Homo sapiens: one gene and its partner. The protein of the gene in region 1 purifies or fractionates together with the protein of each later gene. This does not show direct contact. Each region holds a gene or a part of one and is shown in the gene's direction. Other genes may lie near its edges.

What was found. Proteins that work in one complex are often made in the same cells at the same time.
Region 2: the proteins of SUGP1 (region 1) and TIMM44 fractionate together in Homo sapiens (co-fractionation; one large-scale study listed by BioGRID). This does not show direct contact.

The regions. Positions count from the first base shown.
Region 1 is NC_000019.10:19,310,502-19,315,969, reverse strand, and holds part of SUGP1 (SURP and G-patch domain-containing protein 1), read left to right. Parts: intron 1-5,468.
Region 2 is NC_000019.10:7,937,167-7,940,666, reverse strand, and holds part of TIMM44 (mitochondrial import inner membrane translocase subunit TIM44), read left to right. Parts: intron 1-2,469; coding exon 2,470-2,640; intron 2,641-3,500. UniProt on the Homo sapiens protein: Essential component of the PAM complex, a complex required for the translocation of transit peptide-containing proteins from the inner membrane into the mitochondrial matrix in an ATP-dependent manner.

The DNA.
Region 1 (5,468 bases):
GTCCCAGCTGCTCAGGAGGCTGAGGCACGAGAATCTCTGGGATCTGGCAGGCAAAGGTTGCAGTGAGTTGAGATCGTGCCACTGTACACTACCCTGGGCCATAGAGTGAGACTCTGTCTCAAAAAAAAAACAAAAAAAAACCTCTGCCCTTATGGGGTGACAAACTACTGGCAAAGGGATGCAGGTGCCGCCCCAGAGCTCCTGGAAGATAACAAAGGCAGTGTGTTCCCAGGCCCCGTGGCCACAGTAAGGCCACAGAGCTTTGCATCCTGAAAGCCCAGGTGGAGCTGGCCCACTGAGGAAGCAGAGAAAGGCCTGCCCAGCAGAGGGCAGGAAGGGGAGAGAGCCCATATGTGGAGGGCCAGCCTGAGCTGCTGTACCAAAGGGGCTGTCCCTTAGTGGATGGCAGGTGGATGATAGCTCAGCAAGGGTTTCCACTTGCCTGTCCTGAGAAACACTGAGGGCACCAAGGGTTTTGATCAAGGGGTGATGTTGTGATGAGGGTGACCAGATCCAAGCTTTTCAGGCTGGAGATTGATAATCTGAGAGGCAGGCCCCTTCCTCTGGGGTCTGGAGTGTAGAGTGTGTTAACCTTCCCCAAGGCCTTGTTCCAGCTCCAGCTTTTCCTTTTTTTTTTTCTTTGAGACAGGGTTTTGCTCTGTCACCCAGGCCGGAGTGCAGTGGTGGGATCATGGCTCACCGAAGCCTTGAGCTCTTGGGCTTTAGCAGTTCTCTTGCCTCAGCCTCCCAAGTAGCTGGGACCACAGGCACGTGCCACCATGCCTGGCTAATTTTTTTCTATTTTTGTAGAGATGAGGTCTTGTTATGTTGCCCAGGTTGGTCCCGAACTCCTAGACTCAAGTGATCCTCCCACCTTGGCCTCCCAAAGGGATTACAGGTGTGAGCCACTGCACCCAGCAGCGTTTGCCTTTTCTTCTTTCTTTTTCTTTTTTTGTTGCCTAGGCTAGAGTGCAGTGGCACGATCTCAGCTCACCACAACCTCTGCCTCCAAGTTTCAAGCGATTCTCCTGCCTCAGCCTCCCAAGTAGCTGGGATTACAGGCATGCGCTGCCACGCCCAGCCAATTTTGTATTTTTAGTAGAGGCGGGGTTTCTCCTTGTTGGTCAGGCTGGTCTCAAACTCCTGACCTCAGGTGATCCGCCCCTCTCAGTCTCCCAGAGTGTTGGGATTACAGGCGTGAGCCACTGCACCCGGCCAAGAACCAGCATTTTTATCTCCCAGTATTTGTTACCAGTGGTTTTCAGGTGGGAGCCGTTCGCTGTACTCTGCAGCCTGAATGTGATTTCTTGTCTTTCCTTGTCCCTACCTCTTCCTGGTCCCTCCTGAGTGAAGTGCTCAGGGTGTGAGTATGGGGGCAGGCCCAGGAACTGAGGGGTGCCCAGAATGTCCTGGTTGTTTAGTGTCAACATTGAACCTTCTTTTTCATATAAAATTACTTCTACTCCTTCTTTTTTTAAACTTTAAAGGTAATTCATGTACATGGTAGGAAATCCAGGAAGTAGAAGAGGGGTAAACAAAAAACCAAAGTCACTCATAACTCTGCAACACAGAGACAAGCACTGGTTGAGTGTTGAGGTGTTTTTCTGTTTTTTTTAATTTTATTTAATTAATTAATTTATTTATTTTTGAGACGAGTCTTGCTCTGTCACACAGGCTGGAGTGTAGTGGTGCCATCTCGGCTCACTACAACCTCCGCCTGTTGGATTCAGGAGATTCTCCTGCTCAGCCTCTCGAGTAGCTGGGATTACCAGTGTGCGCCACGATGCCCGGCTATTTATTTATTTATTTATTTATTTATTTATTTTATTTTTTGAGACAGAGTCTCACTCAGCCGCCCAGGCTGGAGTGCAGTGGTGTGATCTTGGCTCACTGCGACCTCCGCCTCTTGGGCTCAAGTGATTCTCCTGCTCAGCCTCCCGAGTAGCTGGGATTACAGGAACCCACCATCGTGCCCGGCTAATTTTTGTATTTTAGTAGAGATGGGGTTTCATCATGTTGGCCAGGCTGGTCTTTAACTCCTGGCCTCAGGTTGTTCCTCCCACCTCGGCCTCCCTAAGTGCTAGGATTACAGGCATAAGTCTCTGAGCCCGGCCATTTTTTTGTATTTTAGTTGAGACAGGGTTTCACTATGTTGACCAGGCTAGTCTTGAACTCCTGGCCACAGGTGACCTACCCGCCTCTGCCTCCCAAAGTGCTGGGATTACAGCCTTGAGCCACCGTGCCGGGCCTGTTTTATTTCAGAGGCAGGATCTCACTCTGTCACCCAGGCTGCAGTACAGTGGCACTATCATAGCTCACTGCAGTCTGGAATTCCTGGACTCAAGCTATCTTCCCACCTCAGCCTCTTGAGTAGCTGGGACTACAGATGTCCACTGCCATGCCTAGCTAATTTTTAAATTTTGTGTAGATGGGGTCTCACTATGTTGCCCAGGTTGGTTTTGAACTTCTGGGTTCAAGTGATCCTCCTACCTTGGCCTCCCAAAGCATTAGGTTTACAGGTGTGAGCCACTGCTCCTGGCCCGATGTGTTTGTCTAACAATTTTTTTTTATATTTGAGATGAAGTCTAACTCTGTTGTCCAGGCTGGAGTGCAATGGCGCGATCTTGGCCCACTGCAACATTCGCTTCCTGGGTTCAAGTGATTCTTCTGTCTCAGCCTCCCCAGTGACTGGGATTACAGGTGCCCGCTACCACGCCCGGCTAATTTTTTGTATTTTTAGTAGAGACGGGGTTTCATCATGTTGGCCAGGCTGGTCTTGAACTCCTGACCTCAGGTGATCCGCCTGCTTTGGCCTACCGAAGTGCTGGGATTACAGGTGTGAGGTCCCGCACCCGGCCTTTGTAACAATTTTTAATTCAAATGTATTTTGATGTAAGTAGAACCACACTGTAGATACTGTTTTATAGCCTGTCCTTTTGTTTTTTTTTATTTATTTATTTTATTTATTTATTTTTTTTTTGAGATGGAGTCTTGCGCTGTTGCCCAGGCTGGAGTGCAGTGGCACGATCTCGGCTCACTGCAGGCTCTGCCTCCTGGGTTCACACCATTCTCCTGCCTCAGCCTCCTGAGTAGCTGGGACTGCAGGTGCCCCCCACCATGCCCGGCTAATTTTTTTTTTAATTTTTAGTAGAGACGGGGTTTCACTGTTTTAGCCAGGATGGTCTCGATCTCCTGACCACGTGATCCACCCGCCTTGGCCTCCCAAAGTGCTGGGATTACAGGCGTGAGCCACCGCGCCTGGCCTTGTTTTTCCTTTAACATTGTATTTGATTGCTTGTCTAAAATTTCAACTTTTCAGGGCTGCCCCATCTTCCCTGTGGATGGCCCGTAATTTATTTAACCAGTGCCCCTTGTTGATGTATTTAGGTTATTTTAGTTCTGATGAACTAAAAATTATTCCTTTCTCCTATTTAAAGGAAAAAGGCTAGCCCTGTGGACTCCATGAGCTTTTTGCACCATTGGGTACATCCATATGGTGGAACGTCATGCGGGTTTAAAAAGCAGCGTATGTGAGGAATTTGAGATTGGAGCAGGATGGTGTGCTACAGTAGGAAATGGAAGAAGTAGAGTGTGTGCTGTGATCACAGCCTTATTTCCTCTGACTTCTAATTTAGAGAGCAAAATAAAGATATATACCAGTGTTAATAGTGGCTGTTGCAAAGTAGGGAGACATTGTTGGGTTTTTCCATTCCTTTCTGTTTCAGTTTTTCTTTTTATTTTTTTTTAAATGATCTTACTCTGTCACCCAGGCTAGAGTGCAGTGGCATGATTGCGGCCCACTTCCGCCTTGACCTCCTGGGCTCCGGTGATCCTCTGGAATGCTGGAATTATAGGCACACGCCACCACACCCAGCTAATTTTTTGTTTTGTTCGTAGAGATGGGGTTTTCTCCATATTGCCTAGGCTTATTTCAGTTTTTCTACATTTCCATTTGTTCCATAATGAGCCTCTGTTACTTTTTTTTGTTTTAAGAAACATGATCTCACTCTGTTGCCCAGGCAGACGTGCAGTGGCATGATCATATGTCACTGCAGCCTCAAACTCCTGGGCTCAAGTGATTCTCCTACCTCAGTCTCCCAAGTAGCTGGGATTACAGGGATGAGCCACCATGCTTAGCCAAAGCCTGTGTTTCTTTACCCATGTGGGCCTGCAGCTCAGAGCTGGGATCTGCAAGCATTTCTTTGGGCATCATACATTTCTTTTTTTTTTTTTTTTTTTTTTTGAGACAGAGTCTCGCTCTGTCGCCCAGGCTGGAGTGCAGTGGCGCAATCTTGGCTCACTGCAAGCTCTGCCTCCTTGGTTCACGCCATTCTTCTGCCTCAGCCTCCCGGGTAGCTGGGACTACAGGCGCCTGCTACCACATCTGGCTAATTCTTTGTATTTTTAGTAGAGATGGGGTTTCACTGTGTTAGCCAGGATGGTCTCTATCTCCTGACCTCGTGATCCGCCCACCTCGGCCTCCCAAAGTGCTGGGATTACAGGCGTGAGCCACCGCGCCCAGCCTGGGCATCAAACATTTCTAAGAAAACAGCCAAAGCAATCTTGCTGGAAGAATCACAGGGCATTTTATATTTTATCTTCACTCTCTCCCTCTTTTTTTTTTTTGCAAAGTATATGTTTTACTTTTTAAAAAATATGTTTTTAACAAGTTAGCACAAAGGCAAACCCAGGGGCCTAAATATATTTAAATCAAAGTTGAGCACAGCTGATATACTGTTGTCAGAGCTGCCCTTCATGCCTGTCAAAAAAATGGCATTGGCCAGGAACAGTGTCACATGCCTTTAGTCCTAGTGACTTGGGAGGCTGAGGTGGGACCATTGCTTGAGGCCAGGAGTTCAAGACCAGCCTAGGCAACATAGTGAGATGTTACCTCTACCAAAAAAAAAAAAAAAAATTAAAAAATTAGCCAGGCAGAGTGGCACATGCCTGCAGTCCCTGTTATCGCACCATTGCACTCTGCACTTTAGCCAGGGCAGCAGAGCAAGACCCTGTCTCTTAAATAAATAGGTCAGGTGTGGTGGCTCACACCTGTAATCCCAACACCTTGGGAGGATGAGGTGGGAGGATGGCTTGAGGTTAGAAGTTCGAGAACAGCCCAGCCAACATAGCGAAACCCCATCTCTACAAAAATACAAAAATTAGCCAGGTGTGGTGGCACATGCTTGTAATCCCAGCTGCTCAGGAGGCTGAGACATGACAATCTCTTGAGCCTGGGTGGAGGAGGTTGCAGTGAGCCAAGATTGCCCCACTGCACTCCAGCCTGGGCGACAGAGTAAAACTCTGTTTCGGATAGATAGATAGAGAGGGAGAGAGACAGAGAGAGAGAGACATGTAGGCCCTGCCTTGGAAAACTCTAAGGTCTAGCAGGAGGACAGACATGAGTCAGTAACAACCCAGATAATCAACTAGCAAGGGAGGACAGGTGCTGTGCAGAGAGAGCAGGAGCC
Region 2 (3,500 bases), about 11 Mb from region 1:
TCTGTTGGTGTCTCAGCATCGTGAGGACAGAAGCCCAAAACCTGACTCCCTTCCCCAGACCTGTACATTCGGGCAGCGCGTACATTCTGTCTCCCTCTCTCTCTGCGCCCAGAGCCTCAGCTCAGCTGCCTCCTTGGAGGCAGCTACCTACCTCTCCAGTCCTGTCCTGGGGCCATCGTGGGTGTGGGACAGGACCTGTGACTCTTTCCCTTTCTTGTCTAGTCCCCCGCCACACACTCACTCCCATGGTTTGTAGCCCAAGAGTCTCTGGTAGGGCTGCGATAAGGTTGTGTGGTCCTGGATGATTTTACTTAGAACCTGGGTTTCCCCTGGAGAAAGGCTGGCCAGGGTGGCATCTGAATGGGACTGCAGCCTGCTGACAGGAGGCCTGGCCACCTGTCCTGGGGAGCAGCACTGGGCTTTTTTTTTTTTTTAAGATAGGGTCTCACTCTGTGGCCCAGGCTGGGGTGCAGTGGCACTATCACGGCTCACTGCAGCCTTGAACTCCTGGGCTTAAGCGATCCTCCCACCTCAGCCTTCTGAGTAGCTGGGACCACAGGTGTGTGACTCCACGGGGCCTGAGCACCAGGCTGGATGCAGCTTTCTCTTGTAGCTTGACAGGAGCCAGGGAGGGGGATCCCACCTGGAGCTGGTATACCCAACACAGCTGTGGAAAAGTTGACCACAGGCGGCCCCTTCCGCCTGATTGGATTATTGTATGATCATTCATTAAACTGTTTCTCTGTTGTTTTTTTGAAACAGAGTCTCACTCTGTCGCCCAGGCTGGAGTGCAGGGGCGAGATACCGCTCACTGCAACCTCCACCTCCCGAGTTCAAGCAGTTCTCCTGCCTCTGCCTCAGTAGCTGGGACTACAGGCAGGCGCCGCCACACCTGGCTAATTTTTGTATTTTTAGTAGAGACAAGGTTTCACCATGTTGGCCAGGCTTGTCTCGGACTCCTGGCCTCAAGTGATCCGCCCACCTCGGTCTCCCAAAGTGCTAGGATTACAGATATGAGCCACTGTGTCCAGCCTGCTTTTTTTTTTTTTTTTTTGAGATGGAGTCTCATTCCATCACCCAGGCTGGAGTGCAGTGGCACAATCTTGGCTCACTGCAACCTCCGGCTCCTGGGTTCAAGTGATTCTCCTGCCTCAGCCTCCTGAGTAGCTGGCATTACAGGCACCCACCACCACGCCCAGCTAATTTTTGTATTTTTAGTAGAGACGGGGGTTTCACTATGTTGGTCAGGCTGGTCTGGAACTCCTGACCTCAAGTGATCCACCCACCTTGGCCTCCCAAAGTGCTGAGATTACAGGCAGGAGCCACTGCGCCCGGCCTTGTTTTGCTTTCACAAGGCTTTATCTTTTGAGCAGTTTTAGGTTTACAGAAAAATCCAACAGAATGTCCAAAGAGTTGCCATGCCCCTCCTCTCCCATCTGGCACACAGTTTTCTATTCTTCACGTCCTGCATTAGTGTGGAGCATCTGTCACAATTGACAGGATGTTGATACATTATTATTAATAAATGCATGGTTTACCTTCCGGTTCCCTCTTGGTGGTGTACATTCTCTGTGATTACAGTATCATAAGAGTAGTTTCACTGCCCTAACATTTTTCTGTGTTCCCCCCTACTCATCTCACCCTCTTCCTACCAAACCCCTGGCAACCACTGATCTTTTACTGTCCCCTTAGTTTTGCCTTTTCCAGAACGGTCTATAGTTGGAATCAGACAGTATGTAGCCTTTTCAGATTGGCTTCTTTCACTTAGTGCAATATACATTTAAGGTTCCTCTGTGTCTTTTCACAGCTTGAGAGCATATTTCTTGCTTGTTTTTTAAATTATTTTATTTTATTTTATTTGAGATGGAGTCTCGCTCTGTCACCCAGACTGGAGTGCTGTGGCATAATCTTGGCTCACTGCAGCCTCTTCCTCCTGGGTTCAAGCAATTCTTGTGCCTCAGCCTTCTGAGGAGCTGGGACTAAAGGCACACACCACCATGCGCAGCTAACTTTTGCATTTTTAGTAGAGATGAGGTTTCACCATTTTGGCCAGGCTGGTCTCGAACTCCTGACCTCAGGTGATCTGCCCGCCTCAGCCTCCCAAAGTACTGGGATTACAGGCGTGAACCACCGCGCCCAGCCTGTTTTTTAAATAGGGTGCTGTGTTGCCCAGGTTGGTCTTAAAACTCATGACCTCAAGCAATCCTCCCTCCTCAGCCTCCTAAAGTGGCTGAGAGCTCATTTTTTTTTCAGCACTGAATAATATTCTGTTGTCTGGATATACCACACTTTTATCACCTGCTGTTTCTTTGTTTTTTATGATTATTATAAAAGAGATAGCTAATCATCATTAAATGTATATCAACCGAAAAGAGAACATTTAAAAAAATCCCTGAGTCCCTCTGTGGGGCATTTCATTCTATGTTCTACTATGTTCTTTAAATTTTTTTTCTTGTACATTCTTTCTAGTCCAAATCATATTCTTCTGGAAACAGAAAAGGCTTTCTGTCCGGCTTGCTAGATAATGTCAAACAAGAATTAGCCAAAAACAAAGAAATGAAAGAAAGTATAAAAAAATTCCGTGACGAGGCCAGAAGGCTAGAAGAATCAGACGTGCTCCAGGAGGCCAGAAGGAAATACGTGAGTTTCTTTGCTGCTTTTTTTTCCCTCACCCAGGCTGGAGAGTAGTGGTGCGATCTCGGCTCACTGCAACCTCCACCTCCCAGGTTCAAGTGATTCCCCTGCCTCAGCCTCCTGAGTAGCTGGGCTTACAGGCGCGCACCACCACGCCCAGCTAATTTTTGTATTTTTAGTAGTGAAGAGGTTTCACCATGTTGGCCAGGCTGGTCTCGAACTCCTGACCTCAAGTGATCCGCCCGCCTCAGCCTTCCAAAGTGCTGGGATTACAGGCGTGAGCCACCGCGTTGGGCCCCTTTGCTTCTTACCTTTCTTGGTTGACATGTTTGTTTCCAGGGCCAGGGTTTCTCCAGGCCAGGGACAGCCAGAGGAGCTCAGGGCTGGACGGTTGGGGGCAGGGTGGCTCGTGAGGAAGTGAGGTCACTGCTCTGATGCACTAATGAGAGGGAGCCAGGGGACAGGTGCGGGTCTCCAGGCCTCTGGGTTCTGCCATGAGACCATGCAGCGTTCTGTGCAGCTTGAAGCGTGGTCCCCAGACCAGCAGCAGTGGCTCCTCCTGGGAGTGGATGAGCAGTGCAGAGGCTCACACCCTCCCAAACTGCCAGGCCAGCGCCCGCATCTTCACAGGCCCCCAGGCAACGCATGCACACCAGCTATGGGATGCAGCGCTCCTGAGAGCTCCCAGCTGTAGCCCTCTGAGTGGAGCCTGGTGGAAACTGGGTGATGGTGCTGGTATTTTATTTTATTTTATTTTATTTTATGAGATGGAGTCTTGCTCTGTCATCCAGGCTGGAGTGCAGTGGCGTGACCTTGGCTCACTGCAACCTCCAGCTCCTGATTCTCCTGCCTCAGCCTCCCGGATA